2 separate regions of the Homo sapiens genome follow, and region 1 is linked to region 2. A link means that fine-mapping ties the variant in region 2 to the expression of a gene that starts in the linked region. Tissue or cell type: left ventricle. Region 2 holds a variant in brackets; the other region holds the start of a gene. All regions are shown on one strand. Distances are between the middles of the regions.

The links. PIP is the estimated chance that this variant, and not a neighbour inherited with it, causes the effect.
Region 1: ESRRB starts here. The variant in region 2 is fine-mapped to the expression of ESRRB in left ventricle (GTEx, PIP above 0.99). The same link has a PIP of 0.9 or more in atrial appendage.

What each region holds. Positions count from the first base shown.
Region 1 is chr14:76,373,618-76,377,856 of GRCh38, forward strand. ESRRB (estrogen related receptor beta) reads left to right here and starts at 2,520. Exons shown (of 7, transcript NM_001379180.1): 1 at 2,520-2,834. The coding sequence starts at 2,785.
Region 2 is chr14:76,309,378-76,313,616 of GRCh38, forward strand. It overlaps LOC105370575 (a long non-coding RNA gene), which reads right to left and starts at 1,042. Exons shown (of 4, transcript XR_001750833.3): 1 at 448-1,042. It also overlaps a transcript of ESRRB not described here. RefSeq lists an enhancer at 445-1,058. The variant T/C (reference allele first, on the strand shown) is at 2,349.

The DNA.
Region 1 (4,239 bases), 64 kb after region 2:
CACTAGGGTGTCCCGGCGGCTGGCCCTCATCTCTCCTCTTGCAGAGTCAGAAAGGAAATGAGAAAGAACTTGGCCCCAGGGCTGTGTGAGAGGAGGCTCAGGCAGAGGAAGGCTGAGAAGGCCTAGGTCTCTAGGAGTTCATTCCTGCCTGGAGGACAATCAGCTAGTGCCCAGAGATAAGGCTCTGGTTCACCTTCATGCCTGAACCTTAGAGGCAGAGAATAATAGTAGGCAAGCATTAGCCTAGTGTTCTAACCAATGCAGACCCCACTTTCTCCTCATTTGCTCCCAGTGGCTTTGAATCCATTGCTCTGGGCTGTGATGTGGTCTTTCTTTTCAGACCATGAAGAGGACCTTATTTCTACCAAGTGTGTCTTGTTTCCAGTTAAAAACGGTGCACCCACACAGAGTAAGGAGTCAAGGGGCCCCAGACAACCCATCACTGCCTCACCTTCTTCCTGGGCAGCGGCCTGTCACTCAGCAGGCTGTGGCACCCCACTCCAAACTCCTACAGGTTAACCATTCATTCAGCAAAATCTTCATCAAGCAACTGTTATGTATCAGGCAACTTTAGATGCTAGAGATTCTCTGGTGAACAAAAAGAGACATGGTCCCTACTCCCATGGAGCTTACAGTCTAGTGAGGGAAGGGTGGAGGAGGGAATTATCACTCATGCCAGTACACAGACAATTGCAAACTGTGATAAACTACCCAAAGCAAAGGAACCACAGAAGATTCTGGCACTATATGGAAGGTGGGGCCTTCTAGGTGGCAGATGTAAAGACTGGGGCCCAGAGGGAAAGCAGCAGGGGCTGTGGAGAGGAACAGAGGGACCTGCAGGAAGCTGTCATAGGATGCCTTCCTTGGAGGCCAAGGACTGGGGCCTTTTTCCTAATTGCAACAACGGGACATTGGATGTGCATTTTACAAATCGCTCCCTGGCTGCTGTGTGCCTGGAGAATGGATTTCAGCAGGGCAGAAAGGATGCCGAAAAACCAGTCACTGAGGTCCTGGTGAGAGATGATGGTCATATAGAAGCCAGGCTCAAGGGAAGCATCCCTGCACCCCTCTTTCTGTCTCTGATGAAGTACCTATGTGATTTTTAAAAATCGGGGGCTGCTGGGGGGCTACTGACAGAGGAGACATCTTCATCCATCTCTCTGTGAGATGCCTTCCTGAGCCTTGCGCCCAGAGAATCCCACTTGTTCCTCCACTTCAGCACATATGAAAAATCTCAGCTCTGTTTCCCAACCTGCACGAGCACATTTATCCAAGTCAAAAATCATCTGCGATCCTTCTGCCCACTCTCCCAGCCCCTGCCCAGGCGGCTGGCCCCTCCTGGGGTTTCTCACAACCCTCCCTGCCTTTATTCCTGAAGTGCTTGAACATTGCCTGCAGTTACACTCCATTTAGACATTATTTTGATGATAAAATTATGTCTTCCCCCCTACTGCTCATTGTCTTCTGCAGAATATAGGAGAATAAGGTGGTGGTGTCTCCTGAGGGCTTTTCCCCCCTTTTAAATAATTCTATACCTACCCCCCTCCCCACACTCATTTGAATCATCAAATTGATTATTATCCCTGTGGCTGGTGCATCTCAAAAGATGAAAAACCCAGAAGCAGGGCTGGGGCATGACTTACAGCTCATTTTGGTACAGTGGCATCCCATAATATTCGGGTTCACTGAGGGAGCAGCGGACGGGGATGCAGGTGCGTTTGTAGCTGGGGATTCAGGTGTGTATTTCAAAGTGTGTACTTGTGCCTTGGAGTGGATGTGGCGGGTAAGTTGATCATTTTCACCACGATTGTATTTTCCTAAGCAGACAGGAATTTATTTGCTCATGTCTGTGTCCTGGGTACATTTCAGAGAGCTGCCAATGACTAGAGCATCACTTCATACATTGAGAGAACGTTTTATAGATGCGCACCCTGCATCTAGCCATATGAGAGTGGTGCAGAACTGACTGGCCCAGGTGATGAGAACTGGGAAGGGAATCTGTTTCTCTCCTGCCTTCTTGCTGTGCCTCACCTGCTGGCCTGACCCTTTGCACTTTTGCGCACACAGCGCAGGGTTTGAGGCTGCCTCTTCTCTTTGGTGCGTGGGTGGAGAAATGTGACTCATTTTTAATTTGGAAAACAGATCCATTCCAGAAAGGCTGAGAGGTGAGTTTGCTAGACCTGCCAGTTAAAAGATGGGATAGGGGTGGCCCGGGGGGTATGTAAGCAATAAATCTCCCCCCACCCCAGACCCACCTGGCGGTTGGACATTCCCCCCCACCCCCCTTTAACTGCGAGAAGGCAGGCCTTAGGGCTCTAACACCCAGTACTCCTACTGCTCAGGAGGTGGGGACCTCGCGCGCTGAGCGTCTCATTCCATGAAGTCTCTCTGTCTCACCCCCTCCCCCCACCCCAGCTTGATTCTGTCACTTTAAGTCCAGCCCCTGAGAGATAGCCAATAGGAGCCAAACTATACATCAGTCTCCCAGCCTTAAAGCTACAGTAGGGTTAGTGGGCTCCAAGTCTCTTGTGCCCCAGCCTCCTCCACGGCTTCGCATCCCCTCTGCCCGCTCTCTCCGGAGCGTGCGGATGAGTGGAGAGCTGGGCTGTGCGCGCACGGCTCTCTGCCTCCCTCTCCCCCGCCGCGGCCGCCTCCTCCCACTCTGCGTTCTCGCGCTCACTGTGCCCTGCCCGGGCTCGCACCTTGCCCGTGCCCTTCACTCGCTCTTCCGCGTGATTTCCCCGCCGTCTTTCTCTACCAACTGGGAATGCTAAAACGGGACTGATGGACGTGTCCGAACTCTGCATCCCGGACCCCCTCGGCTACCACAACCAGTAGGTGCCCTGCTTCTCGGTCTGTCTGTCCTTCTGCCCGTCTGGCAGTCTCTGTCCTGGGGATCGCAGTTCCTTTTCTGCACATTCTTGTGTAAAAGTGGAAGGGACTTCGGGGGGGCACTTGGGGGACGAAGGAGGGGAAAAGCCGCACACTTCTGGGTTTCTTTCTAGGGCATAAACCCTCCTCTAACTTTTTCCCGCACCCCCTTTTACAAATCCACACTTTCAGGCAAGAGTGGCGCTTTCTCATGCACTTTCTCCCTTTCTCTCTCCTCTCTGATCTTGCTCCGGGGTGAGAAAATATTTGAGTTTTTGTGGAATGGAGCAAGAAGGGAGGCAGAAGCCCAGAACAGGTGCAGGGATGTGGTTGCAAGGATGTCCTGTCCCGTCAGAGAAAGCCTTTCCCGCGGGCGCTTTGTTTTATTATTTCCATCCTGGGGACCAAAAATGATCCCGGCAAGAGAGAGAAAATCGAACGTGCCGCGGCGGTTTGGAAACTGCAGGCGGCCAGTGCCGCTCTCGCCTCGCGGTCTCCGTGGGGCGCCCCGAGGGTGCGCACGTGGCGCGGCGGATCCAGGGCGCCCGGGGGATGCGGGCCCAGCGCTGCGTCGTAGGCAAAGTTCGTTCTCGGCTTTGGGGGAGGCTGTGACCAGCGGAACAGAAGGGCACCATTTCCCTGCTCCGAGGCGGCTTTGCGCTCGCGGTGCCAGAACCTGGGGTTATCCGAGCGGCGTGGGCGCGGGCGGCAGCCGGCGCCGCGAGAAGCGACTCTCAGAAACCGCGGGTCTCCAGCCCCGGGGCAGCGCGCCAAGAGCGCAGAGTGGGAAAGTGAACTGATCGCCTAAGCAGCGGGTGGTCAACCCGCGTGTCATGTCCGGGCTCTCGGGGATCCCACTCTATCCACCTACGGTTTCCCTCCCGACACCCTCCACGGTCGCCGCTCCACCTGCTCGGGTACCTGCCCGGGTCTCCCCTTGGGCGCTGCGCACCCCACGGCGCCCCCGGCGGGTGTCCCGGAGGCAGGTTGTGTGCGCGTGCAAAGTGGTCCCTCGGAAGGCTTAATAATAATAATACATAAAACTCTAGGTTCTTACGGACAGCTTTCCTGCTTAACTTTGTGCTCGTCTTCCTCTTTTTTTTCTGACGCAAACTAAATTCTCCAAGTCAGCGTTTCTCCAGTTCCACCGTGCTTTCATTTGTGTACCACTCGCTCTCCCCCTCCCCCCAAGAACCACGACTACATCTCTAAAATAAATACTCTGGATCATGTGGGGTCCCAGGAAGTACCTAACCCCTCTCCTGGCTGCATGGAGCACCTCCACCACGGTGCACCCCGCTTGAGAGAGAGGGCAGCTGTCCACAGCATGGCTTGTGTTGTTGACCAGACTGTTCCTGCTTCTAGTTT
Region 2 (4,239 bases):
ATGGGGATGTGATGATGAATGAGACAAACACATAGTCTTTACCTTCTTGGAGCTCATATTGCAATGGCAGGCTACTGGTGGAAAGATTGGAGGCCCTACACGTTTAATAGGTTTTTGACTTCAACAGCTTAGATACCACCCCATCCTCATAGTTTCTGATAACCTGGAGAGTAAAGGATTAGATCTAACATGAAGAGGAGGTTCAACTTCATTTCTTTTAAAAATTGGGGATCAGGAAGTTTTAGGGATTATGAAGTACCTGTCCCTTATCCATACCAGCAAGGGGTTCATCCTATGACCCCTCTTGAAGGGGAAACTCACCTGAAATTCTGCCTCATTTAGCATGCACAAGAAATCCAGAAAATCAAGACAGGTGACCCTGTGTAGTCAAAGCAAGTGGGTCTCCAGATGGCAGATGGGAAGCCCCCTGGGGTAATGCATGCTCACCTGGTTAATTGTTGAACAGCCCATACTTGTGCCGTTTCACCATGATTCTTCCAACTTCCAGAAACAGCCCCTTGGCTCAGCTTTCAGAGCTGGACTGGCCTATCCCAGAGAGGCGGCCCCAACTTTGTAGAAACTGGGACAGGCAGTGCTTCTTAGAGACCCTCCGGTACCCCAAAGAGCGGGGCTTGTTCTCCAAAAAGGAAATCTTTTCAGACGACTTGACGTCCTAAATCTTTCTGGAGAAAGCAGAGACATTAACACCCCCAGGGCCTTTCAACTTCAGGCCGTTCTTCTGTTGGGAACGCCATCTCTTGGCCTCTTCAAAGACCTGGCCTCACCAGGCAACTGCACTTCCTCTCTCACCCTCCAGGAGCCTTCTGCATGGCCCCCAAGAAGCCTGCCTGGCCCCTGAGCTGGGAAAGCTGAATTCCCTCCCTGCCTCCTAATTTGGCAGGAGGAATGGAAACTTTCGTGGAAAGCACTTGAGCTGACGAATGCTCCCAAGTCAGGACTTTGACTCGGGCCCTGACAGGGCCACGGGCTCAGGATCCGGAGGGGGGCGGCTCTCCTTCTCCAGGTCAGGACCTCCTGCCCTGGCTCCTCCCCTTGCTTTCTGCCGACCATCAGTCACCAGCTCCCCTGTGACCCCAAGTGACGGCCGCACACCACTAGAGAAGTCATTGTCTTACACATCCCCCCTTTTCACTTGCCCTCCCCCAGTTCCTCCTCCCCTTCATGGTGTATTTTTCTTCCACACTTTCCTGCGTCCATCAGTGGCTGTGGAGTCTGCATGGGGCTGGGTGGAGTTGGAAGTCTAGAGCTTTTTGCTGTTTTGTTTAAGACCTGGTTATGGTTGTGAGACTTTTTTTTTTTTTTTTTTTTTTTTGTCAGCTGCCTGTTATATCAATCACGGAGTCGGGATCTATTTATAGGTTGGGAGTACTGTGTCCTTAGTCACAAAGAGACACAGACAGGGGACTGTCAGCTGGTACCGGAGGAGCGGAGCAACGAGTTATCAGCAACTGAAAGCACCTGAGGGGCCGCACATTCCACCCCAGCCCAGTCCTCGTCCTCCACGCCAGCCCCAAGCATGTGAGTAACCCAACTTCTCCCTTTCTCCTCCCCAGACTCTGCGGGTCCTTTTCTGTCCCCTTTCTCTCTCTCTCTCTCTCTCTCTCTCTCTCTCTCTCTCTCTCAATGGATAAAAATATCTCCCCATGCCTGTTCTTTCATCCTGGTTTTCCGCACTCTAAAGCATCCCTGTGTGGCCGAGAGGAAAACGTTGCCTTTCTTAGACTGTCACAGGAAGGTCAGAGGGTCTCTGGATGGCTAGGTGGGACGGTGACACAAACTCATTTGGAAGCAGTGAGTTCCCTTTGATTTTTGTTTGTTTTCACTGAGAAAAAAGTAAGTACATCAGAAGGGCAAGGGAAAGTTTACATGCAGCTCAGCAGGGTAGCGATGTCGCCCAGCGTGAAAACTTTTATTTGCTGGCAGCTCCGGTGTAGGGCAAGCTGGGGAAGGTTACCCAAGAAGACCCAGTGCCCACAGGACAGGTAATGATGGGAGCTCCTGGAAGTTTTGGTTTCAACCTGGGAGCTTCCAGGTTCAGGGAGACTCCCCACAGTCCCGATGACCAGTTTTCTATAGCACCTTAAAGTAAATGATTTTCCCTCTCCCCTCCGCGGAGCAAGTTTGCTTTGAGAAGTCACGATGAGAGCTGAGGATTTGTCCTGCCTTACAGGCTGTCATTGGCTCCCTCATTTGGTGTATTTTCTTAATCCTGAAAGGGAACTTGGCTGGGGACTGGGAGGAAGAGTCCCAGGCCAAAGCCAGGTGTGGAGGGAGGGCTGTTGACTGCTTTGCTCTGCATCCTTCGCAAAGGAAGAAACTTAATATCG[T/C]GAGGCTTGTCAAAGCTGTGCTTGTTTCAGACAATTCGAATAGTGTGCCGGCTCTGAGTGCACCTCGGGCGGCTCTAGATGGGGCCTTCCCGGCCACAGTCCTGTGTCCACGGGGCTTACCTGCCACGAGCTTCCCGTGCAACGTTTGGGACTTTAGTTTCTGGATATTGAATAGTATTCACCCGAAATCCTGTACTTGGGAAGATTTGCTTTATAGAATTTACAAAGGAAAAGTAGCCCTACATTTTGAAAAAAAAAAAAAAAAAAGTAATGATGCCTAATTTATACTTAAGTACAACTTTTTAAATGTACCTTTTTTTTTTTTTAACCATGAGTTTCTATTTATCCAATGGATACCATATGCTATATGACTGAGGACTCCTTGATTTGTTTGGGAGAACAATATCCTACAAAGAAACAATCTTTCCAACAATTTAAAAGCATTAAACAAAGCAGATATGCCTGTATTATTTTTGATTGATTACAAACAAAAATAGTTTTACCAGCATGAAACCAGTTAGTTTCATCTAACTCGATGAAAGTTAAATAAATATGGATATACACACGTATGTTTAGAGAAGCAATTTGATATCATTTTTATTTTGACTGTTCTGAAACTTTAACTTTCCTTTTTCTGGTTCCATGTTTTCAGCTGTATTTTGTTTAGGGTTATTAATATCTTTAATCCATTCATTCATTATTTTGGACGGGAGAGTGGGGATCAGGAAGCAATGAGAAATTAGAAGGCAAACGTCCCATGTTCAGCCAGTAAGACCGCATTCAGTAGTGGAGAAATTCAGAACAAGGAGTATGGCGTACAAGGGGGTAAATGTCACTATTTAAGATCTAGTATAGACGGTGAAGTCTAAGAACTCCAGAGGGGGACAAACGCCAACTAGGAGTTAAAGTGTCTTATACATATAGCATTATTATTCTTCCTATTATGAGGGCCTCTATTTTGGTAAATATGTCCTGCTAAGGTTTTTTCACCATAATGCTGAAGTGGGATTTGGTGGATTATTGTTAATTAAAGCTCAAGTGAATGAAGTGATTGAGACATTGCATTCAGAAATCAGAGAAGATTGCTATTGGCAAAGCTGAACTTCTAGGACTTTCAGATCTCAATGGCTTTTGAGAAAAAATGTGGCTTTTAAAAATGCCTTTTAGTACAAGAACAAATTCTACCTCCCCTCCCCAACCTGCACACTGGAGCCTGCCTGGCCCACTGTGCAGGCCCAGTGTGTCAGGATTAAATGCAGTGGGAGAGAGTCCCGCATTCCTGAGCAAGTCCTGTGTTCTCAGAGCCTTAATGGTCAGACAGAAGAATATTTTGTTGGGACATTTAGCTAAAAACTGCCTCTTCCCTGGGCTACGTGTAGATCCTTTCAGGTGAGATAGGGGCTTGTCTGACCGTGTGATAGAGGGCCTGGCTTTCATCCTCAAGTTCAGGGTGTGGTTTGGCCCATCGGGCTTAGTTATAGAGATGCAGTTCAGGGAAACTTCAGTGTATTTGCATGAGACAGCCTCTGATTACTTAGTTTCTGCTTCAATAACTATTAATTTTATGTGGTTTGAGCTCCCATCAAATTCATTTTTTTTTTCAAACTGATTTCTTAAATGCAATTGGTCACGGGGCTGTCTGTGACTTCATGTCTGCAAAATCTAACCATTCCATCCTTGTCATTGTTTATTTCTCTGAATGTAAATGAGCAGTTTCCTGTGTGCATGCACTGTTGTTTTATGGGTTCCCCCCACCGCCCTCGAACACATAGGAATCCAGTCCTGACCTCCTCCCAAATTGGGGACAGTGGGGGCAATGAGCAGGTGCTTTGGAATGCAGCAGGCTCAGGTGCAGGAAGAGGGAATCACAAATACCTGGAAAGTGCTCCCC